3 separate regions of the Homo sapiens genome follow, and all the other regions are linked to region 1. Evidence: fine-mapped expression QTL. Tissue or cell type: whole blood. Region 1 holds a variant in brackets; each other region holds the start of a gene. All regions are shown on one strand. Distances are between the middles of the regions.

Evidence for each region. PIP is the estimated chance that this variant, and not a neighbour inherited with it, causes the effect.
Region 2: it holds the start of DHRS7, and the variant in region 1 is fine-mapped to the expression of DHRS7 in whole blood (TOPMed, PIP above 0.99).
Region 3: RTN1 starts here. The variant in region 1 is fine-mapped to the expression of RTN1 in whole blood (TOPMed, PIP above 0.99).

The regions. Positions count from the first base shown.
Region 1 is chr14:59,767,947-59,776,056 of GRCh38, reverse strand. All of the region lies in intron 1 of RTN1 (reticulon 1), which reads left to right. Among named protein-coding and RNA genes, the nearest start is that of RTN1, 99 kb to the left of the region's middle. The variant T/A (reference allele first, on the strand shown) is at 3,566.
Region 2 is chr14:60,161,367-60,169,476 of GRCh38, reverse strand. DHRS7 (dehydrogenase/reductase 7) reads left to right here and starts at 4,079. Exons shown (of 7, transcript NM_016029.4): 1 at 4,079-4,300. The coding sequence starts at 4,168. It also overlaps the pseudogene SCOCP1. RefSeq lists a silencer at 3,846-4,115 and enhancers at 4,316-4,365, 4,556-4,615.
Region 3 is chr14:59,867,647-59,875,756 of GRCh38, reverse strand. It overlaps RTN1 (reticulon 1), which reads left to right and starts at 4,981. Exons shown (of 9, transcript NM_021136.3): 1 at 4,981-5,367. The coding sequence starts at 5,127. RefSeq lists a silencer at 4,973-5,072.

The sequences.
Region 1 (8,110 bases):
AGAAAATGACTAGGAAAGTGCTAGAAATGCCCTAAACTTTATTATAATATGACATTAATTGAATCATCTTTATTTCATTGTTAAATTATTAGATATTATTTATACGGATTGATCTCTGCTGCCCTTAATTTAAAACTTCTTATTTCTGGTTGTGAGAGGAACAGTTTAGACTTCAAATGGCTTCTCTTCTTTATTTCAGTTATTAGAGACAACTTTCTGCTGTATGAAAGAGTGATCTTTTTAACAAATCAGATGACCAGTCCACAATTGTTATTGCTTATCTGCAGAATGTATTAAAATGTACATGGAATAGAAGATGTACTTATAAAATACAGAGTGCAGAGTATTTTATTTTTGGTCTGGAGATGTATCATCTTGCTTTTCAGTTCAATTTCTGTTACTATGTGATCTTACTCTCACTATGCCTCAATTTTCTCATCTGTTAAATGGGAATAATTAATAGTACCTGCCTCATGGGGTTGTTGTAAGGATTGAGTGAGCTGATACTTGTAGAGGATTTAGACGGTGTATGACACAGGGTACGCAGTTTATAAGTATTAACTATCACCACCATTATGCAGTGAAGAAAGCTTCCAATAAAGAGGCATTGTGTTCAAAATACTGGGATAGGATTTGTCTAAGCTATAGTAATTCTAGCTCCTACAAAAAAAAAGGTCAAAAATGTATAATTCCTCAAAAAGAATAGAGGCTTATTTCTTACTCTCACATAAAGTCTAGAATTTGTGTTCCTAATTAGCAGGCAGCTGGCCTCAAAAGGTGATTCAGGGACCCAGGGTCCTTTCATGTTTGGGTTCTAGTACCATCTCTAATATGAGATTTTCAAGGTTTTATGGGACAGTGACATTCAGCCAGTAGACAGAAGATGAGAAACGTCTGAGATACTCCCCTCTTAACTCAGTCTAGAGATGGAACTTATCGCCTTTACAAGAGCAGTTTTCATGGCCCCATCTAAGAAGAGAGCTGGGAAATGTACTCCCTAGCTGGACAACTACATCCCGGTAATACCTTATAATGTGGCAGAGTGGCATGAATAGGTGGCTAGGAAGCCATCTCTGCCATAGATGTAAAGGAGGTTTCTGTCTGTTATTGCAACAGTTTTCCCCTGAAATGTTAATTCAGTCAAGCATTATAGAAGTGGTTACTTGGATGTTTTTGCCTCTTCACTTAATGAGAAAAAGACGGTACTTTAATCATCAAGAAATTGTTCAGAAGAGTGAGTTCTGATCATGTGGTCTCCTTGGGGAGATGTTGTGAGTTGGCTGTTGGCTGATTTTACCATACCACTCCTCAGTCTCAACTGTAGTAGTGGTGACTTATTGGGACTAGATTTATCCACACTGTTAATGGTTTATTTAGAAAGGAACATTAAGAATACACATATAAATATGAGATTCCAAATGAAAATTACTTACATTTCATTGGTTTCATGTGTTTTTATTTAAGGCTTTTAGGGAGGAGAAAGCAAATTAAAGAACTGGACTATTTTGAACTGATTTTGATCAGTGTGGAGTGAAATTGCCAAGTAGCTTTCAGACATATTTTTGGCCTGCATTATTTGCCTAATTACTTCAGCTCTCAATTTTGCCCGTGTTGACACAGCTAGAACAGCAGGCAACACAACTGAGACTGCAGAAGTTGAAAGAAACCAACCCTTCAGAGCCAAATTATAATAATCTATAGTGTTGTATAGATTATAAATCATTTTTACACTTTAATTCAGAGTCGAGTCCATGTTCTTACAAATGGAATGCAGAATGTTTTGGGGACAAAAACTCAGCATGTTAAACAGTCAGTTTAGTAAGAGATTCACATTCTTTGCCATAGAAAAATAAAGAGCTGTGCCATCATTAACTCAGCAGTTGCACTGTGTTTTAATTCTGCTACTTAAAGCATCTCTTTCATGTAAGTGGAACTGTCAGTCCACTACAGACACTCTTTACCATAATGTGGATACTTGCCCAAATTTGTAAATCTGGCATTCTATTTCACAAACGTGGATGCAGTTTTATCCTAATTTTTCAATAATGGATAAATAATAAACTCTAATCACATGAAAGAGAGAAAAGAAGGCATATATGAATGAAATGTCCAGATAATCTAAAATATTCCTTTTAGTCACTATGTTTCCCTTTCTGAAAGGGTCAAAAATGAAGAGGATGGGTTGAATATTCATTTCTTTTTCTGTCTCATGTCTTTTTCTTTCATCTTCTCTTGTTTAGGATAATTAATGAGATGATAGAAACCAGGGTAGAAGAAAGACAGTAAGCTTTAAAAAAGCCAAAATAAATCAGCTCTTGAATAATTGAAAAGAGGCAGTGTATCCCATACACTTTTAACATCATGCTCTTTCCCCCATTAAATCTCAGATATAGAGTTATGAGTTGGTAACTCAGGTGGGGAAACTGTCTTTAGGAGATTCTTAACTTGATGGAAAGACTGCATCTGATTCTCAATTATGGAAAATTGAGCTTTCAGAAAATACTTAAAGGCTTAATGGAAATTAGAATATTTGTCATCTGTAAATAAATATTGCTGTGGTTAAAAATAAGTTCTGTCTTTTTTGTGCTGATTTATTTATCAGAAACTAACTTTTTAAAGTCATCAGAAGATATGTAATAGACATATAATACTTCTTCATTTATTCTTGGAACCACAATAGTGAATTACATGACATAGTACTATCTTCAGTTTTTTCCTTATTAGACTTAATAAGATAATATTTTCACTATAACAAGAAATAAATGATGAGAATTTTTTTTCTAATGTAACTAACTGGGCACGGTAATACTTCATAACTAATGAGTTCAAATAGCCTTTGAAATATGTCTCATAGATTTAGATTTTACTATCTTTGGGGTTCTTAGATGACAAGCTACTTCAAATAAAATATTTAATGAACTACTTTAAGATAAGGAATTATATCCTTAATTAACAAGTTTGCCATTATATTAATTTATAGCAAACCATCTGAAATTAATTGCTCCGCAGTTTTACTGTAGCTTTGTTCATTAGAGACAGAATGCAGCATAAGCCAGGCATAATTTGAACCTCATCTAAAAGAATGCAAAGAATGATGGACAGTAGGATGCTATTATCAGGCTGGGCCATTTACCTGGAGTTCATTCACAGGGATTAGAGACACAGCCACAGGATTTTAGAAGTATTACATCATTTAATTTTTTCTAAGCTCTAAATTTCCCACCTCTAAAATGGCCAAAAAAAAACCCAGTCCTTTTTTGACTAGTCATGATTTTATTAATGGGTTGCCTAAAGTGTTTGTTTGAAAATCTTAGATGCTAAACAATAAAGGACAAAGACTATGAGCCTCGTTCATCTTGGGGAATGAGTGTTTTCTACAGCCCAGGCTCTCCCTAAGGCAGAAAAGCAGTACCCTAAAAGACATGCATCATAGTTTTATGATTTAGCATCATTTTAGCTAAGGAATCAGCCAGGAGCAATAATTTCCTTTTACTGTATTTCCACTGTTTTTTTTTTTTTAATATTGGGGAGAAAGAGGAAGGAATTGGGCTGTCACGTAACTTAA[T/A]CCGGAAAGATGTAAACTGTTGTTTTGACCTTCTTTTGCTTCCTCTGTAGCACTCAAATTACCTAATAGCATGCTGAGCACACTAAAGGCAGTTAAATGTACTTGCACATGAATTGAACAATGGAATTGGAATATAATTAGAACATTTGTAAAGAAAAGTGACTAAGAAGTAGAAAAAAAATCTATGGGAGATAACATAATACATTCAAATTTAAAATCATTTCAGGATCTTTCTAAAAGATGTATAAACAACATGTTGATTAATATCCTTTTGTTTTTTAAAAGCCAATTACATTATATAAAAACAAACAGATTTTTAAAATATTCTGTAGACAGAACACCAGTTGATTAACTAAAAACTTTATTTTTCAGTCAGTAGCATGTATTCTCAGTCTCCAGATATAAAAAGTTATTTCAGTGCTATTGTCTTCAGATGTTCTATTTGTTCAGCTTTTATTAACCTTTTTAGTGTACATATTATCAGAAGTAATTACAAAAGGCACTAGCAATAAATAATGAATAGTATAGTGGAGTCTAAAATAAAATGGTTATTTTACAATTTAAATGCAGATATTTCTTCTTACTGCGTATCTAATTGTCTAATAACTCTTAAAAGCACAATGCAAAATGGCATGAATCCATACATGAGTAATTCTTCTGGGAATGCTGTCTCATATCCACAGGAAGCATAATTGGGATGACATAAAAGCCTTCTATTTACTGATAAGGATAATTGAACATGAAGCACTTCTGTGAGGATTTCACCATATGGGAGGAGTTACTCCATTCCACAGCTTATTTGAAATTTATGGTGGATACAGCCTCGGTGAAAGAATATCTTTATGACTTCCAGCAGCCATTTGGCATTTATTATGAAGTATTTTCATGGCTGAAGATACAGTTTTCTGTTGCTAATGTGCCTCACACATTGCCATGTGTATGAGGGATGTGGGAGTTTAATAAATAATATTTGATGATAAGACTTAATTTAGGCATGGCATTTTATGGAAGCTTATGATTCACATACCTCTGTGGTACTCACAGATGCACTTGAGTTTTGGTTCTGTAAAAGTTAAGAAGCCAAGTTGACACCTTAAAAAGCAACACCTGCACTTCTTGCACACAGTTCAGACTTATGGGTTTACCAGCAACTCTGCTTATTCTTAGTCAACCCATTGGGTTAGAAGTCAGCTGATGACCCCTGTTGAGGCCTGAGATTTCATTTGATTCCATGGCCACAGGTAGCTTCTTGGTCTGATCTAACTGTTTTGCAAATATGAGATCAAAATATCTACTGGGAGTGAAAATATAAATGGGCCCTCACAAGTCCATCATGGCTACAGAGAGGTAATACAGATCATGTTCAAAATACAGATCATGTTGATGAGGGATGACTTTGATATAGAAAGGAAAGCTCATGCCATTACAGAATTTTTTTTTTTTTTTTGAGACGGAGTCTCACTCTGTCGCCCAGGCTGGAGTGCAGTGGCGCCATATCGGCTCACTGCAACTCTGCCTCTTGGGTTCAAGCAATTCTCTGCCTCAGCCTCCTTTATAGCTGGGATTGCAGACACCGGCCACCATGCCTGGCTAATTTTTTTGTATTTTTAGTAGAGATGGGGTTTCACCATCTTGGCTAGGTTGGTATTGACCTCGTGATCCACCTGCCTCGGCCTCCCAAAGTGCTGGGATTACAGGCATGAGCCATTGCGCCCGGCCAACAGAATTCTTAAATAAAGTATTTAAGGTTAGTAAAGCCTTCAGGGAAATGAGCCTGGTTTGAAAAATCTAAATGTTTATTTTCATTTTTGAATACCTGTAATTAATTTGATCAATATTAATTCCAATGAATTTCTGGGTTTTGAAAATAAACAATGCAAAAATACGTATACACATAAATACATATATAAAGCTTTACCATAACATTAAGGTTCTTAATGATAAATTCTGGGAAAGGACCACAGAAATGAGTAGAGTTCTGAGAATACTGAACTGGCCTTACTGCAAATCTGATGCATTTCCAAAGTCCAAATTTCTAAACAAAATGAAATCATGCATTAGTCTTTGAAATCCTAAGTTCTATGTTCTTTTTTTTTTTTTTTTTTTTTTTTTTGAGGCAGAGTTTCACTCTTGTTCCCCAGGCTGGAGTGCAATGGTGCAATCTCGGCTCACTGCAACCTCTACCTCCCAGGTTCAAGCGATTCTCCTGCTTCAGCCTCCCAAGTAGCTGGGATTACAGGCGTGCAGCACCATGCCCAGCTAATTTTTGTATTTTTAGTAGATACGGGGTTTCGCCATGTTGACCAGGCTGGTCTCAAACTCCTGGCTTCAGGTCATCTGCCCACCTCGGCCTCCCAAAGTGCTGGGATTACAGGCATGAGCCACCACGCCTGGCCCCTAAGTTCTATGTTCTTTTTGGCTTTGGGTTTATTTATTTTATTATGTTCCCATATGTAGTGTCAACTATACGTGACAGTCCTGGTTTTCTTCAGAGTCAGACTTCCCATGGCTTTGCTCATTCCATGTTCTCTGCCTGGGAAAGGTAGGGTTCCTTATCTCCTTTTGCCATTCTATCCATCCATAAAACACCAGTTCCTCTGGGAAATTCTTCCTTGTCCCACAAGTAAGAAAAGACACTCCCTCACTTGTATTCTCACAGCACTTTCTCCTTCCTGTATCTTTTGTTCATTGTCTTTCATCACAGCTGTCGACAATGTACTGTAAACTCCTGGAGGGCAGCAGACTGCCTTACTCACCTTGCAATCAAGGTGAGTTGATGTTGTCAGGAATTGGGTAGACTGTTACGTGATAAAGGCAAAGAGAAATAACCCTTTTTATCTTAATTCTGTTTCAGTTTACTCTTAATGCAAAACAAAATCTGCATGGCAGGTCTTATAAGACTATTTCAGTTTTCTACTTTCTCAGATTCTTCTGCTGTGGGTCTGGTTTTACAAGGAGCAGCGTTTGCTCCTTCAGGGTTTCCAACATAGTTCTCAGGATTTATTCTGGAATTCTAGAGGCAAAACAACTCATTGCTGGGGAAAGTATCCATGAAAAATATATGTCATTTATTATGAGGCTTAGTGGTAAATGTTTTTATATTCATATTGTGTAACTAGCACTTTAAGCCTCAGAAATGCTTGCTATGCATTGATACTTTATTCAGGTGCCAAACCAAAAAGCATCTCTCTCAAAGTGCATATGCTAATAGTATCTTGAAAAGTACCCTAACAGAAATTGCAATGCAGAATAACATGACCTCATGTAAAAGACTTTCTATCATACTTTTCAGTTAACATTTACTAGATGCCCTAGAGAGAACTTTCATTCTTTTTAGTAATGAACACTTTTTTAAAAATCAAGCAGTATAACATAATGATTAAGAGCAACTGCTTTAGAATTCAATGACGTAGTCTTGAATTCTTCTTCAGCTACTTATAGGATGACTAACTCATCCTACTTTGTCCAGGATACTCCCAGTTTAAGCACTGAAAGTCCTACATCCTACAGAATCCTTTGGTCCTGGGCAACCTGAGGTGATTGGTCACCTAGAAAAGTAATACCTTGTTCAAGTCTCTGACTTTTCTCTAATTCTCAATTTCCTCAACTACAAAATGGGAATAATATTGCCTGTCTTATAGGGTCATTTTAAAGATTAAATGAGTTAACTCATATACTCTGCTATTAGCAGAGTGCTTAGCATATAGAAATGTTAAATAAATGTAGCTATTGTCATCCTTAGTATTAGCCAGTATAATTTTTTTTTAACAGCGAGACACATGGAGTTAAATAAAACGAAAAGAACAGAACCATATTAGCATGTTAGTGGCAAGATTCTAATAAGGTTATCCCAGGGCTAAGCCTCCCCTCTTTCCAACCCTGAGTCATTGATAGGGTAGAAACTGGAGTGGGGAGTGAAGGTGCAGAGGACGTTTAGCCTTCTACACACAATCCAGGGCTCTGTGGTAGCAACGACCAGATCAAGAGCCAGGATGCATTCAACATTCTAGGAGTAGAGTCACACCCCAGTTACCTCCAGTTGCCTGGCCCAAACAAGGGCAGAGAAGAGTATCTAAATCCTGATTTCGGTCACTGGATCATTACCACATCCTTAGAAGAGCTATCTTAAAAGATAACAAATTCCTGTCTTTGTGTTGCCAAAGAAAAGTCTATAACCAGATAATGTCATTTATAGGGAATTTTTTAAAAAACACTTATCAAGTTGTACTTTGTAAATGTGCTCATTCAATAAAATGTATTGAACTCTTATTAAGTGCTAGGTACTGTGCTAGGAATACAGAGATAATAGGACCATTCTTTCCCTCAAGTATCTCCCAATTTCAATCATATCAATTAGTAAATAAGTGGAAATTCTAAAGTAGACATTTGGTAATGCCATAAGAATTATGAAAACAAGCCAAACCTAATAACAATATAACAAACTTGATAGTTTTCAGTGTTGTTATTTAACTTCATTCATCTAATATATCAAGTAGTCACTGACAGATAGTGTGACTATAATGCAAGGTAAACCAGTGTTCAGTA
Region 2 (8,110 bases), 390 kb before region 1:
TATAAACAAGAGAGAGCAAGAGGTAGAAGCTGCAATAGCTTCTGTGACCTATCCTTGGGAGTCACACACTCATCATTTCTGCAGCATTCTGCTGGTTACAGTGATCAACCCTGATACAACCTGGGAGGGAAATACATGGTGGTTTGCACACAGGAGGTGAGCATTGTTGGATCCATCTGGGGGATTTCTGGCCATCCCTCTATGTGGAGAGAACAGTATGTACAAGGCCTTGAGGTGGGCTGGTATTCCAGAAAGCCTTAACTGATTAACTCTACTCACCTCTGCTGAAAAGTTGACTGTTACTTGGTGCAATGGTTTTTTTTTTTTTTTTTTTTTTTTTTTTGGTTTCTTTTGTTTGTTTGTTTTGTTTTTTTAAGACAGGGTCTTGCTCTGTTGCCCAGGCTGGAGTGCAGTGACACCATCAGTCTCGGCTCACTGCAACTTCTGCCTTCCAGGCAGTCTCAAGCAATCCTCCCACTTCAGCCTCGGTGCAATGTATGTTAACATATCATCTGTCACATCTTCCAAAATTTGAGTCCCAGGTTCTCCAAAACTTCAATGGGTTAGTTAGACTAACCACTTTCAATGCCTAAGTGTTCTAATATGTCAAGTTCTCCTCTGACCTTATGCTTTGGTTTATGAAGAGTGAAATTATGAGGAGTGTCAGCATGTTTGCAAGCCAATGGGATGGAGTATGATTTAAGAAGCAAGAAAGAATTTTGTTTTTCTTAAATCTGAGACCATAAATTTCTGTTCACTCTGCTTATCTCCAAGGCTGGTCCTGGCTGGAGAGGGGAGAAAAAAGAGAAGGAGAGGAAAAAGCATTGATCAGTTTTAGAATTTTAAGAAAATATTTGCATATTTTAAGAAATTTAACCTAATTTTTTTAACTTTTTACTTTAAAATGATTATAGATTCACAGGAAGTTGCAAAGATGGAACAGACGTGTACTCTGTACCCCGTTCTCCCCACTAGTAAATTTTACATAATTTTAGAACAATAACAGAACCAGGGAATTGGTATTGGCAAAATCCACAGACCTCGTTCAAATTTCACCAGCTTTGCATGTACTCATGTGTGCATGAGTGTTTGAAGTTCTAGATTAGAATAACAACCACCACTACTAAATCATGGACAAGATATATAAAGGGAAGTTTGAAACAGAGCATTTAAGGGAGAGAGAATGAGAGCTATAAACTGCTTATGTTTAAGAGACCCAAGATACTGTGGAAATTGGCTAATCTAAACAAAATATCAATGCACTGATATGGGGAACTGCATGTGGTGAACAGTGCAGTGAGATATTCCTATTGAGGGATCCCATGAGATTACTAAAGGTAAGAAAGTAAGTTATATTTTCTTATAAATAAGACTCTAGGTAAGACCTTGTCTGCCTGAAGAATATCAGAAAACTAGACCATGACCTGAACGCTTGTAGCTGGGGTACAGCCAGGCAGGTGTAAGCCAGAGCTTGTGGAGGGAGGCTGCTAATAGATTGCAGAGCTCCTCTCCACCGTGGCCAGGTTGCAGGATTTCTGAGTAAGGGTGCTGTGAGCTTTTGGGGCAGGGCAATTCTTTGTTGGGTATGTCTTTACATAGTGCCCAGATCGTTAGCACTCTGATGACACCCTGGCTAGCTGGCACTATGGCCACTGTTCATCCAACACATTTCCAAAAGCATCTAAGGGATGTGAAAACATCCTCAATCAAAAACCACAAACCCCTTATTGTTCTTGAGGAAGAATATTCCCTCCCTAGATTCCTCAGTCCCTGTTTCCACTCACAGTTTCCACTCACTCTTTTTTTCCCCCGCCTAGGGACTGCCGATCTTGGAGGATCTGGATTTTTAAAGTTATTTTTGTATAATGCTTTTGTTATGGAAGATGGCAATTGCTTACGCACAACTGCCTTCATCTTAGCTGACCTGAATGGGCCTTAGCTGCCATGAATGGGCCTTAGCTGCCATGAATGGGCCTGACCCCAGACCATCAAAAGTGACCATTACTAAAAGGAGGGAAGGCAGGGTACCATTCTATTACATCTGGAATTAAAAATGAAGGTTACCAGTTATAGAAAAGACTTTCGGACTTTATTCAAAGCATTTTAATAATACTTAGAGAAGATTGATTTATTAAATGCTAGCAACTCTCATTTTAACATTAACTTCCGAACTTCAAGGAGGTTTTAAAAAATTGAATTTTAATTTTTAATTTTTGTGGGTACACAGTAGGTGTATATATTTATGGAGTACATGAGATACTTTGATACAGGCATACAATGTGTAATAATCACATCATGGTAAATGGGGTATCCACCCCCTCAAGCATTTATCCTTTATGTTACAAACAATCCAATTATACTCTTCTGGTTGTTTTAAAACATACAACTAAATTATTATTGACTATAGGCACCCCATTGCACTATCAAATACTAGGTCTTATTCATTCTTTCTATTTTTTGTATCCGTTAACCATCTCCACGTCCCCCCCAACCCTCCCACTACTCTTCTCAGCCTCTGGTAACTATCCTTCTACTCTCTATCAAGGAGGTTTAAATTTCAAGGAAAGGAGAATTCAATCAACGTGGGCTTATTGCTTCTCATGTCAACACTAAGCTATGTATTCCAGACTCTTCAAAAGAAGCATCAGATTTGCTACTTTATTTCAAGGATTCTAAAGTTCCATTGGAACAATACTATATTAACCCTGAAAATAATTAAAAAACAATTTCAGATATAGTTCAGAAGTAATTGTGAAAAGAGGTGAGATTAGGGAAAGATGACTCTGAGTCCAGATAACCCCAAAAAGCTTTTTAGAGAAGGATGAGGGTGGGGAGGCAGGTAGGGGGTTTATAATAGGATTTAAAAAGAGAAGGAAGAGCTATTTAAGGAAATTTGATTACTGCAAGTAACATTCTTCAAAACATTTAAAGAAAAACAAAAGTTTGGCAGGCAAGACTAGAAAAAGAAAACAACACTGGGGAGGGAAGTCACTGCTTCTTTTATTTCCATGACTGTTTTAAAGTCATATTTAGTTTCAGCCAAGGAAGAGCCTTTGACATCAGAGCACACAAAGTACTCTAGGAAATGAAGAGGATGAAAGTTCTACTGCATCAACGCCCAGAACTTTCTCCATTTGGCCACAGGTCGTTCTCATACATGGCCTAGTTTCTATGCACTCTAACTGGGTCCCTCTGAGGCTTGTGAATGGAAAACCCTCTTGCTTTCAAATGCTTGAAAACAAGAAAGATGCTACTATTGATGCCTCAAATACATGTAGGTATTTAGTGGGAAGCAATTAAATGTTTTGAAGGTCATTTCAAACGGAAATTAATCAAAAACAGTATTTTACTCTTTTGTGTATTAGAGTAGGCAAGACCTTGGTGTTTTCATTACATTCTCTGTTTTTATTTGCTGTTTACATTAGGATGTGAATAATGGCTTGGGTAAGGGGAGGATTTGGTACCAACCTAGGCTTTGGTTGCCAAACAGACACCAGAGTAAATTTGTGTGTGGTCAGAATCAGGTTGTAAGGTGCCAACACAGCACATGGCTTCAGTCTTTTTTTCTCTAATTGTAAAAGGACCTTGTCCCCATGGAGGGACCATTGCCTTGGCTTGTGGGGTCTTGAGTGATAGCCACAGTCTTTCTTCAGCACTTTCTCGACCTCATGAAAAGATACTGAAGCTTGAAAAGGGGATGTTCTTTCTGAATAGGAATGGAGAAGAGGGGCCAAGCAAGAATGATTCTATCTGTCTCCTGGCCGTTGATAGTGTCCCTGTACAGAGAGGAAATAACGTAGTATAATATGTAGCTTATGTTTGAATCAGCTTCTTTAAAAATACTGGAATTTTATTTATTTATTTTTGGTAGACACAGGGTTTCCTCATGTTGCCCAGGCTGGTCTCGGACACTTGAATTCAAGCAATCTGCCGGCCCCGCCGGGTGTGCCGCATGAGGGCGCGGGCCGCCCAAGGACCGCGAGTGGGGCCGCGAGTGCTGAGCCCGGCGCGCCCGAGCCGCTCCTCCTCCCGGCCTGCTCCCTGGGCGGAGCCGGGGCAGTGCGGCTCTGGGCTGGCCGAAGGGGTGGCGCTGCGATCCCGCAGGGCAGCGACGCGACTCTGGTGCGGGCCGTCTTCTTCCCCCCGAGCTGGGCGTGCGCGGCCGCAATGAACTGGGAGCTGCTGCTGTGGCTGCTGGTGCTGTGCGCGCTGCTCCTGCTCTTGGTGCAGCTGCTGCGCTTCCTGAGGGCTGACGGCGACCTGACGCTACTATGGGCCGAGTGGCAGGGACGACGCCCAGGTGAGGACCGGCCAAAGCCTCTCCCGAGTGGGAGGCCGGGCTCGGAGCTGCCGAGGCGTGTCCGGGTCTCCGGGGGTTCTGCAGTGATCCCGGGTCCTTTGTGGGTTGCGTGGAGCTTCCCGAAGGCCCGGCTGCCCCTTACGCAGGGGCTGCGGGTTGGGGAGGAAGAGGCGAGGGCTAAAAAGCCCCTTTGTCTTCTGTACTGGTCGGAAGATGGCATGGACTTGCCATTCAGGCTAGGAAACCTCTCCAGGGAGTGCCAAACTGTTAAGAGAGCACTGGAGTCGGCGGTGCTCCTGAGGACTCTGACATCTTACGCAGGACTCAAGGGATTCTGGTGTTGTCTCAGAGGACGATACTTTGAGAAACAGTGAGCGTCCCCCTGCGTTTGTAAGGGAAACTCCTTTGTAAGTACCGGAAGCCCGGTCGTTCTACTACCTGAAGTAGTCTGTCCTCCACTTCCCACTCCTGCAGTTTTGAAATAAAATCTGAGATAATCCGAAGTCCTTCACCTACTTACTCATTCTAGTCAAACACTAGAAAGAACTAAAAATGGCAGTTTGCTGGAGCGAGATCATTATTGGCATACTGCCTATCTCACTTTATCTGTGTCTTGCTTAATATTTGACATCGTGTACATTTGCTGTATGTTGGCTCAGCGCTTTACACACATAACATTTAACTTTTACAACAACTCTTACAAGGTAGGCATTATTAATCTTATTTTCCAGATAGGGAAACTGATGTTCAGAGAAATTAAATGACCTACCGAAAGCTAGGCTTTGGATCCTTAAGGACTTGGGGAAATGGGGTTTCCCTGGACCAAGTTTCTGGTATAAAAATACTCAAAGCATGTTACAAAGTTTGCTTGGAAGAGATAGTAGCTCGAAAGATAGACTATGTTTGGGGGGGGCGTTATGGGTTGGGCGTTGAGGGGGGTGATATTGATCCCAAGGTGAGAATTGGTTCCTGTGGACAAAAAAAAAAAAAAAAAAAAATCTGGTAATACAGTGGTTTGTGCCCCTCCAAAGCTTAACCCCACCCGAGAAAATATTATTCCTTAGTATTTCATTTTTCTGGTTGGGTTTTCTTGGGTATAGCATGTGCAGCACTGACATTGAGTTCACGAAAAATACACAACATGGACGCCACAGCAGTGCTACAAAACTATGGCAAGTGATTGGGCTTTCTCCTTTTAAAGCAGGAATCCCAAATACTGCACAACTTCATTAACCAAGGGCTTTCTCTTGATCGATTGTTCCACCTCAGCGGGGGAATATGTGTGCCTATTGGCTGCCATTGGCTGCCTTGCAGACGTTGTTTGTGTTTGATCTTTAGTGCTTTTGTGTTCACTTGGACTTGGAGAATTAAACGAAAATAGATTATATTTTATTATTTAATCCTACAAAAAATATTCAACCCATCAAATTATGTCAAGTGCTAAAAAGCAAAATTATTGACAACATCTGAATGAATATCTCTAAGCTACTAAGTTAAAAGTTATTTTCTCATATTAAGGAAAAGTTAAAAGTTAAGATCATTGAAAATTTTAAGAAATTCATTTAATATTTTCAGTTGTGTTTTGTCGGAAAAGAACAGTTTGAAGGATTTTAAATTTAATTACATTGTTATCATTATGTAGTTATATAATTTGCAAATTTGCACATGTAGTTTGATAAATTGCTATTTATCTAAGTAAGTTACATAAAAGTTATTCAGCAAAAATCTGGCGTGGTGGCATGTACCTGCAATCCCAACTACTCTGGAGGCTAAGGTAGGAGGGTCATTTGAGCCCAGGAGTTCAAGACCAGCCTGGGCAGCATAGTGAGACACTGTCTCAAAAACCATAAAAATGTTTTTCAGCAAATACAGTTATAAAGTTAGAAGTTAATAACTTTTAAATTTTAATTTAACATTTAACTTAATTTTAAAATTTAGTCATATGCTTATTTAGTCATATGCTTATTAACTAAGGAGTAAGCTTTTTTTCTTTTTCTTTTTTTTTTTGAGACAGAGTCTCGCTCTGTTGGCCAGGCTGGAGTGCAGTGGTATGATCTTGGCTCACTGCAACCTCTATCTCCTGGGTTCAAGTGATTCTCCTGCTTCAGCCTCCCTAGTAGCTGGGATTACAGGTGCGTGCCACCACGCATGGGTAAGTTTTGTATTTTTAGTAGACCTGGGGTTTCGCCATGTTGGCCAGGCTAGTCTCAAACCCCTGACCTCAGGTGATCCACCCCGCTCTGCCTCCCAAAGTGTTGGGATTACAGGCATTAGCCACTGCGCCTGGCAGGAGTAAACTTTATAGAACTCCTTTTATGTATAAAGCACAGATATATGTACAGTACATAAATGATATACAGTATATCTGTGGAATTAACATTTCACAGGAGAGTTTTAGGGGAAAAAAAAGTCTAAAAAGACTCCTGGTGGAGGTAGGGAGTGAGAAAGAAGAAAAGATTAAAGGAAAATTGAAATAGACTCAGATTCCCAAAACAGCTCAGACTGGAGAGATGGGCAGACTCTATCAAGATGAAAAAAGAAAAAAAAATCCTTCTTGACTTCTCTGTAGGTTTATTATTTTTTGTCACTTAAAAAAATAGCACACTCACATAATACAAAAGTAAAAATACAAAAAGATATATAGTAAAAAGTAAAGAGCTTTCTCTGACCCTTGTGCCCTAGCTACCTAGTGTGCTTCTCTCGAGGCAGCCACCATTTCCTGCCTCCTCTGTATCCGTCTAGAGAAATTCTGTGCATTTCCAAGCATATATCTCACATGGTGATTTTTTTTTTTTTTTAATAGAGAGACAAGGTCTTGCTTTGTCACCCAGCCTGGAGTGCAGTGGCATGATCATAGCTCACTGCAGCCTCGAACTCCTGGGCTCAGGCAATCCTCCCACCTCAGCCTCCCCAGTAGCTAGGACTACAGGTGCAAACCACCACACCTGGATATTTTTAAACTTTTTGTAGAAACAGGCTCTCACTATGTTCCAGGCTGGTCTTGAACTCCTGGCCTCAAGTGATCCTTCCACCTTGGCCTCTCAAAGTGCTAGGATAACAGATGTGAACTGCCAAGCCCAGCCACATATGGTGAAATTTAAGGGTGACTAATTTTAGACATTAAAATGGTCCAGAAAAATCCATGGCACAAGTCTAGAGGAGGAAAAATTTCAACAGCAGCACATGTGAGCAAAACTCAGGTTTTTGTTAACAGTAACCTCAATAGGAGTCAACTGTGAAGTGGCTGCCAGAAAAGATCAGGCAACCTTGGGTTGCATTTGTAGACCTCAGTGTCTGAAGCAACAACTGCAAACAACAGATGTCTCCTGACTAGCTGCTTGTATGTGCCGGCCTCTGTGCTGGGGCACTGGGGACACTGCAGTGACTGAATCAGCCACAGTCCAGGCCCTCATAGACCCTACCTTCTGGGGGACAAGGGAAGTGATTTTTGACATCTCATCCTGCTCTGCACTGTCCAGACCCTACCGAATCCTGTGTCCTGCCCTAGCCAGCTCCCTTTAATAAAGAGGAACATTAACCAACTAGAATTGGTGCAGGTGGGTGTGAGCAGAAGAGTGAGGAAACCTGATACCATGTCATGTGAGGGAAGGTGGCAGAAATTGGATAGGTTTATTTAGCCTTAGAGAAGGTAAGAGATGAAAGGACTTAGGGAAGACATAATGGCTGTCTTCCCTAACAGCTGTGAGGGATTGTCATTTAGAAGACAGGTTTCATTTCTTTTCTTTTCTTCCTGAAACAGCTTTTTGTAAAACAAGAAAGCAGAATTGCAACACAATTTAAATGTCTGTC
Region 3 (8,110 bases), 100 kb before region 1:
TGGATTGAAAGAGTCAGTATTGTTAAAACATCCCTACTACCAAAAGCAATCTATAGATTCAATCAAATATCTATCAAAATACCAATGATACTCATCACAGAAATAGGAAAAATAATCCTAAAATTTATGTGGAACCATAAAAGACCCAGAATAGCAAAAGCCACCCTGAGCAAAAAGAACAAAACTGGAAGAATCACATTACCTACTTCGAATTGTACTACAGAGCTATAGTAACCAAAACCATGCCAGCATGGTACTGGCATAAAAAAAAATAGACCAATGGAACAGAGTAGAGAAGCCAGAAACAAATCCATTAATCTGCAGTGAATTCATTTTTGAAAAAGGTGCCAAGAACACACACTGGGGAAAGGACAGTCTCTTTAATAAAAATAGTTCTGGGACAACATTACATTCATATGCAAAAGAATGAAACTAGACCCCTAACTCTTGTTGTATACAAAAATCAAATCAAAATAGATGAAAGACTTATACTGAAGACCTCAAGCTAGGAAACCATTAAAAGAAAACACTGGGGGCCAAATAGATGTGGTGGCTCATACCTGTAATCCCAGCACTTTGGGAGGCGGAGATGGGCGGATCACTTGAGGTCAGGAGTTCAAGACCAGCCTGGCCAACATAGTGAAACCTCGTCTCTACTAAAAACACAAAAATTAGCCAGGCATGGTGGCAGGCACCTGTAATCCCAGCTACTCGAGAGGCAGAGGTAAGAGATTTGCTTGAGCCTGGGAGGTGGAGGTTGCAGTGAGCCAAGATCACGCCACTGCACTCCACCCTGGGTGACAGACCAAGACTCAGTCTCAAACAAACAAACAAACAAAAACAAGAAAACATTGAAACATTGGGGAAAGTCTCAAGGATATTGGTCTGGGCAAAGATTTCTAGAGTAATACCCCATAAGCACAGGCAACCAAAGCAAAAATGGACAAATGGGATCACATCAAGTTAAAAATCTTCTGCACAGCAAAAGAAACAACTAAGTGAAGAGACAACCCACAGAATAAGAGAAAAAAATTGCAAATTATCCATCTGACAAGGGATTAATAACCATAATATATAACGAGCTCAAATAGCTCTATTAAGAAAAAATATAATGATCCAATTAAAAATGGGCAAAATATCTAAATAGACATTACTCAAAAGAAGACATACAAATAAATAGCAAACAGACATATGAAAAGGTGCTCAATATCATTGATCATTAGAGAAATGCAAATCAGAACTACAATGAGATGTCATCTGACTCCAATTAAAAAAACTAGAGCTACCATATGATCCAGCAATCCCAGTTTTTTATATATTATGGTTATTAATCCCTTGTCAGATGGATAATTTGCAATTTTATTCTCTTATTCTGTGGGTTGTCTCTTCACTTAGTTGTTTCTTTTGCTGTGCAGAAGATTTTTAACTTGATGTGATCCCATTTGTCCATTTTTGCTTTGGTTGCCTGTGCTTATGGGGCATTACTCTAGAAATGCTTGCCCAAACCAATATCCTGGAGAGTTTCCCCAGTGTTTCAATGTTTTCTTGTTTTTGTTTGTTTGTTGGGTATATACCCAAAAGAAAGCAAAAGTATATTGAAGAGATATCTGCACTCCAACGTTTATCACAGCACTATATTATTCACACTAGCCAAAATTTGGAAGCAACCCATGTGTTCATCAAGAGACAAATGGATAAAGAAAATGTGGTACATATACACAATGGACTATTATTCAGTCATAAAAAAGAATGAGATCCTGTCATTTGCACAACATGGATGGAACTGGAGGACATCTGTTAAGTGATATAAGCCAAGCACAGAAAGACAAACTTCTTATGTTCTCACTTATGTGTGGTAAATTAAAATTAAAACAGTTGAATTCATGGAGATAGAGAGTAGAACGGTTTCCCAGAGGCCAAGAAGTGTAGTGCTGGGAGGCTGGCAGGGGCCTGAGGGGCATGGAGGTGGGACAGTTAATGGTAGATATAAAAATATAGTTAGATACGAGTGAATAAGATCTAGTATTCACTGGCACAATGGGGCACCTACAGTCAACAATAATTTATTTTATATTTCAAAACAACAAAAAGATTATAATCGGATTGTTTGTAACACAAAGAAAGGATAAAAGCTTGAGGTGATGGATACCTTATTTACCATGATATGATTATTATTCATTGTATGCCTGTATTAAAATATCTCATATACCCCATAAATATATACACCTACTATGTACCCACCCACAAAAATTTTAAAAAAAATCTCCAGGTTACAGTTGAGGAACCTGGGTTGTAGAGATGTTAGGTAACTTTAATATTGAGGCTGGAAAGAATTTCATCTTGGTTAAAGCTTGTTACTTGTGGCGCTCTTCCTGCATGTCCCCACACCGTGTTTCCCCATGATATATGGTTTGGACTAAGTTAAGAAGCTAGTGCTAAATAAATGCTCCTCATTTCTTCTTTTCAAATGATGAACAAAACTTCTTTTCCAAAAAACAAAAGCTGAAAACAAAACGTGACAGTTCTTTTGTCTCAACTCTTCTTGCTAAGAACCTTTTAAAAGTGACAATCCTATTTTCTCTGTGTCTGAAAAGCATTTTAGAGTAATTCGTAACTTAGAGCAACTATGTAAGCCCCAGAATCCCATTGCCGACTGTGTGTTTTGCCCATAAATCTTCAAATTAGTCAAGCTTTGTCAGTTCAGAGCGGTGCAAAATAAATAATATTAATAAACATGAATCATTTCAAGTCATAGCATAAACCTGAAAATTTCTTCCCCCAAATAGATAATTTTTATACATCCAAAGGTGGAGTCTAATAAGGAAAGTTAGTAATGAAAATTGCTAACACTGAAATCTTGTGCTCATCTCTTTTCAGCAGTGTAAAATAGAATACTTTATCAAAATGGAACTGTCAATAATGTTCAATTTCCTTTAACAACTACACTCTAAATAGATTTAACTGGCTATTTCCTTCACACATTCTCAATGAGAGTATTGATTAGTATGAAAGAAATTGACAAATAATTAGAATCATATCCCCAAACTTCCTATCTATTAATCATAAGGAAACACAGAGGCTTGCTTAGGTCTCCCAGTTTTTTAATGATGACTTTCATTCATGTTTCTCAGAGAAACAAAAGAATATACTTCATATTATTTTGTATGTAACTCCTTTGCATAGCAATTCTCAAATATTAGTATTCATCAATAACCACTTTAAGGTTATATCATTAGAATTGTCTATGTTCTTGTCTTGTTATCAGTAATAAAACCATGAGAAATTCCCATCTAGTATTTCTGATGCTTTAGGGAATACTAAGTAATAGATTTGAAAAAACTTACAAGTGCCCTCTAATTACAAGACAGGATTAAGCTCCATGGAAATACAGCAGTGGAATAAGCTTTTCAACTTAACGGTTTTTTAAATACACTCTTGTTTTCCCATGGAAAGATGTTTAAAAATCATTATGATTCATGATAACCAATTATTTTGTTGTTTTTGGATGAGATTATTTTTATAGATTTATTGAGTTATAACTGACAACACATTAAATTGTTCATATTTACAGTAAACAATAAGTTTTGACATATGTTTGCACCTGTGAAGCTATAACCACAATCTAGATAGTGAATATTTCCATCATGAGACATAATTTTGAGTATGTCAAAAATGTAAAATTTTGGTGACCATCAGATTTCCAGGGATATCTGGCTTCAGGAGGCCATATTTATTGTTTAGTGAATGATTTTTCTCTAATTTATTGTCATCTTTTGAACATTAGTGCACTAGCAGAACAAAAGATTAGGCAGACTCTGGGCTTTTTCATTTTAGCATTATTGAGGAGCACCTGAATGGTCCTGAAGTTGGCCTTTGAATATACCAATGGACAGGTATGAAATCCTCAAGATGCGCATGGTGGCCAAGAGTCCCACAGTCTCACAGTGTGTGCGGTACCGTCTGCGCCCACCTTTCCTAGAGAAGAAACAGCAGAAAAACCTATTCCTTCACCCTGTGTGTTGTGGTGAATCTTAGTTTTTAAAGGCACATTATTTTATTATATAAACAACTTGGGAACCAATAAAACACAAGACATTTGAAAAGATGGGTCTTCGTATGGGCACAACATATGATAAGGCAAGTCACTTTCCTCCTCTGAGTTTGGGTTTATTTGCTGACTATCTTCCATTTTATCACAGTGAACTGTAAAGAAAAAGATGCAAGCTTCATGGAATGTCCAAATTCTGAAATACAACGGACTGCACAGACAGCTTATGATTAGGATGGCCTTGGCTCAGTGTTTCTGAAAGCAAATGTACAGCTTTTGTCCTTGCCTATTGACACCCTGTTTGCCCTCAGGGCTGGTCAGGGTGAGATCTGTTAAGCTTTTTTTGGAGGCTGTCCTGATAACTCATTTCTTTACTCCACTATTTTCAGGCCCATTCTGGAAACGCAGGATTTAACCGCGGGGTTGCAGCTTCCCTGGTCTCCATCTGCCATCAGAACCCATCTCCACCCCTTCCCCGTTCAGACCTGTGTCCCCTCCACAACTCATACTGGTCACTCTCAGAACTGTGGCCCTGAGTTCTCTAGCTTTCCCTCTTTGCCTCGGGACCCAGGACACCAGTCGGGGCTTAACTTTCTCAGTTGGGAAGGCGACGCTGCTGGTGGCTGCTGCTACTTGCTGGTTCTTCCTTTTTTTTCCTCCCCAAACGAGAGGAAGATTCGAGTGGATTTGGCACATCCCCTAACCGGGGCCTGCCATTTGCAGGTTGGGGGCTGACGTGCCCAGGAGGACCCGGACCAAGCAGGCCATTTTCACCTGCGTAATAACAGGATTGGGAATAGCGAAGCAGCGGCGGCAGCAGCGAGTGGAGTAGGAGGAGGAGCGCAGGCAGCGGCCGCGGCGGGGCCGGAGGAAGAGGAGGGGGGAGAAGGAGGAGCTGAAGCGGGAAGAGCGGCAGGCAGCGGCTCGGCGGAGTTGCAGCAGAGGCGGCGGCGACGCTGAGACACCGCAGCTTCCCTGAGCGCCGAGTCCCTCCGGGGACAGCAGCAGGGAGCGCCCGCGCAGCCACCGAGCCTCTGCCCAGCCAAGCCGCCGTCGCCGCGCCGGGGGACCGCCAGCCATGGCCGCGCCGGGGGATCCGCAGGACGAGCTGCTGCCGCTGGCCGGCCCCGGGTCCCAGTGGCTCAGGCACCGGGGGGAGGGGGAGAACGAAGCGGTGACGCCGAAAGGGGCCACGCCGGCGCCGCAGGCTGGGGAGCCCAGCCCGGGGTTGGGCGCCAGGGCCCGGGAAGCGGCGTCGCGGGAAGCCGGCTCGGGCCCCGCCCGGCAGTCGCCCGTTGCCATGGAAACTGCATCCACAGGTAAGGCGGGCGCCGCTGCCCCTCAAATGGCGTCGGGGACCAGGGCCCCCCAGTCAGTCCCCTTCTGCGCGGCTCTCCTGGGCACCTGCCTCGCGCTTTCTGCCTTGAGCGCCGACCCCACCCCCGCGTCGCCACGGGCGACTGGGAATATTCGCGGGCTGGTAGAAAACAACAATTTTATTTTTCCCAAAGGCTCAGAAAAAGTCAAGATGCTTTTGATCCTTTTATTTCATTATCATGATTATTTCCGCTTTAAAAATTGTTCTCATAGGCAAACAGCAGCATTCTGGCTGCTGGCGAGTCTGGGTACAAGTTTCTCCCTCCTGCCAGGAGGCTCCGAGCTGTAGGGCCCGTTTGACAGGTTGTGGGGATTTTGGGGGGCGTGTTTGCGCGCAGTGTGCGCGCCGGCTACAGGAGATGCTGACAACCGAGCGGCGGGCAGGCCCGCGGCCCCTGGACCCGGCTCTGTCCAGGGCAGAGATGTGGCTGTAACTGCCCCTTACCCTTGCCCTCCACGAATCGCCACCACACCTTACTCCCCCCACATCCCTCCGCCTTTTCTCCCGCAGAAAACAAATCCCAGGGAGTTTGTCCCTAATTCGGGAGGCACAGCTTTGCAAGAGGGTTGGGTGCTGTGGCTGCCCCCGCCCAAAACCTGTATTTCGCCGCTGCCCGGATGGCCCCACCTTGCAGGGAGCATTGAAACTTCAAGTCCTAAGTGCGGCGGGCCTGGCTGTGGGTTGGAGGGCTTGGGTGGTGGTGAGTGGACGTGGTACAGTTTACCAGCAGTCTAAGCGCCCCCCCCCCCCCACCCCGGAAATTGCCCTGGGTTTGGCCATTCTTCGCCTGACGCCCTATTCAAAGTCTGAGCGCGCCAGTGTCCAGCGGGAGCCCAGGCCCCTGGCGCATCCTGGTCAAAGGATCCAGGAAGCGCGCTTTGAGGCTGCCGGCCTGGTTAACGCTGTTTCCAGGGAGAGGAAAGGGGATGCTGTGTGGTGCTCTTTCCTGAGAAAGCTTTGCTATGGTGGAGTGGGAGTTGTGTAGTTTTGGCAATGTAGAGCTAGAAGGCCTGGGGTGGGGGGTGCTCCCAGAGGAGGGGAAGGGGAGTGGGACTGGTGTGTGTGCTCTTGGTGGTTGATTTAAAGAAACCCCTTTTCGTAAGCTTCTCTTAAGGGTTATGTGGAATGTCTAAGGTAATCGTAATTAACTGCCCTGGTACAGAAGATCTGAGCTGGGGAAAAGAGGTTTGGAGAATGCGTTGAATAAAAATTGTCAATATCCTGAAAGGAAGAGAAAAAGTGGAGACCCTATATAAGAAAAAAGAAAAAGAAAGAAAGAAAAGTACTCAAAAGCCCCAACGCCAAACGCCAAAGGTTATATATTAATTATTATATCCCTAGGAGTGGGGGAGGATTTAAATCTAAGAATGGCTGCTCAGTCTCTCTTTCAACTTCTGCATCCAAGTGAAAACAAAACTCTTTATAATTGCAAAAGAAGATGGCAAATGATAATAGACAAAGGAAGGTAGTTTTTGTCTTTACCATTCTTTGTTGAGGATAGACTGCTCATAGTTCAGAATCTTTATCCACTGTAATCAAAGTAAATTGTTTCTTTATGAAACATTACCCACCTCCTATTAGTGCCACTAAGATTATGTGAACTAGAAAAAGGAAGCTAAGTGCCCCATGCTCAGTAACATATCCACAAAAGTTATTATATAGGAAATGCTTAGAATATATATTTGTGGGGTACAGTGTGATGTTTTGACATATGTCTGCATTGTCAAATGATTAGCTAACAAATCCATCATCTCATGTACTTTTTTTTTGTGGTAAAAGCGTTTAAAATTTACTCTTTTAGCAATTTCAAAATGTACAGTGCATTGTTACAGAAAGGTGGCTGTAGTAAATAACAATGCATTTTGCATTTTTAGTATTATTATTATAGAAATACCTTGCTTTATTGAATGTGTTTGGGGTTTTCTATCCTAGGCAACAAATATAGTAATAAAATCAAACATGATACTACGTTTGGATGGGAGAAGAATGAAGAAAGATGGAAGGAGCACATATTTTGCATATTTATATAGAAATTTTTTAGTTTATGATTGTGGCTAGAAGGAATTTCTGATATAGTTGTTGATTGGTTAATGTCTTAAATCTCTGTGTTTCTTATTAAGTAGACCGGATGTGCTGCTATAAGAGACTCAAACGCCAGAAATGCTGTATAAATAAATAACTAGATCTTAAAATTCCAAACAAATCTTGTCCAGCTTCCTGGTCTGTTATTTTGGCAGTTCTATTGCTATAAGCAAAGTTAGCAGGTGAGCCCTCAATTGTATCAGAGATGCCTATTAAGCACACTACTTTACACTGTATTTCTTAATTTACTTTTTTTTGGCTTATAAACAGAAATTTATTTTCTCACAGTGCTAGAAGCTGAGAAATCTAAGATCAAGGTAGATTTGGTGTCTGGTCAGGGTCTGCTTCCTGGTCCACACACAGCTGTCTTTTCACTGTGTCCCCACATGGCAGAAGAGTGCTTTATTTTTTTAAAAGAGTGGTGCTTTTTTGGGACTCAACTCAAACTAAGAAGTAACTTAGACTTTGAGTGTGATGCACTGTAAACAGATTTTGTTTCTTTTTTAGATGGAAATATAAGACAGATATTGATGTTTTAATAACTGTTTTTCTGAAAAACATCACCAATCATGCCATCTGGACAGATATTCTGTTATTTATTT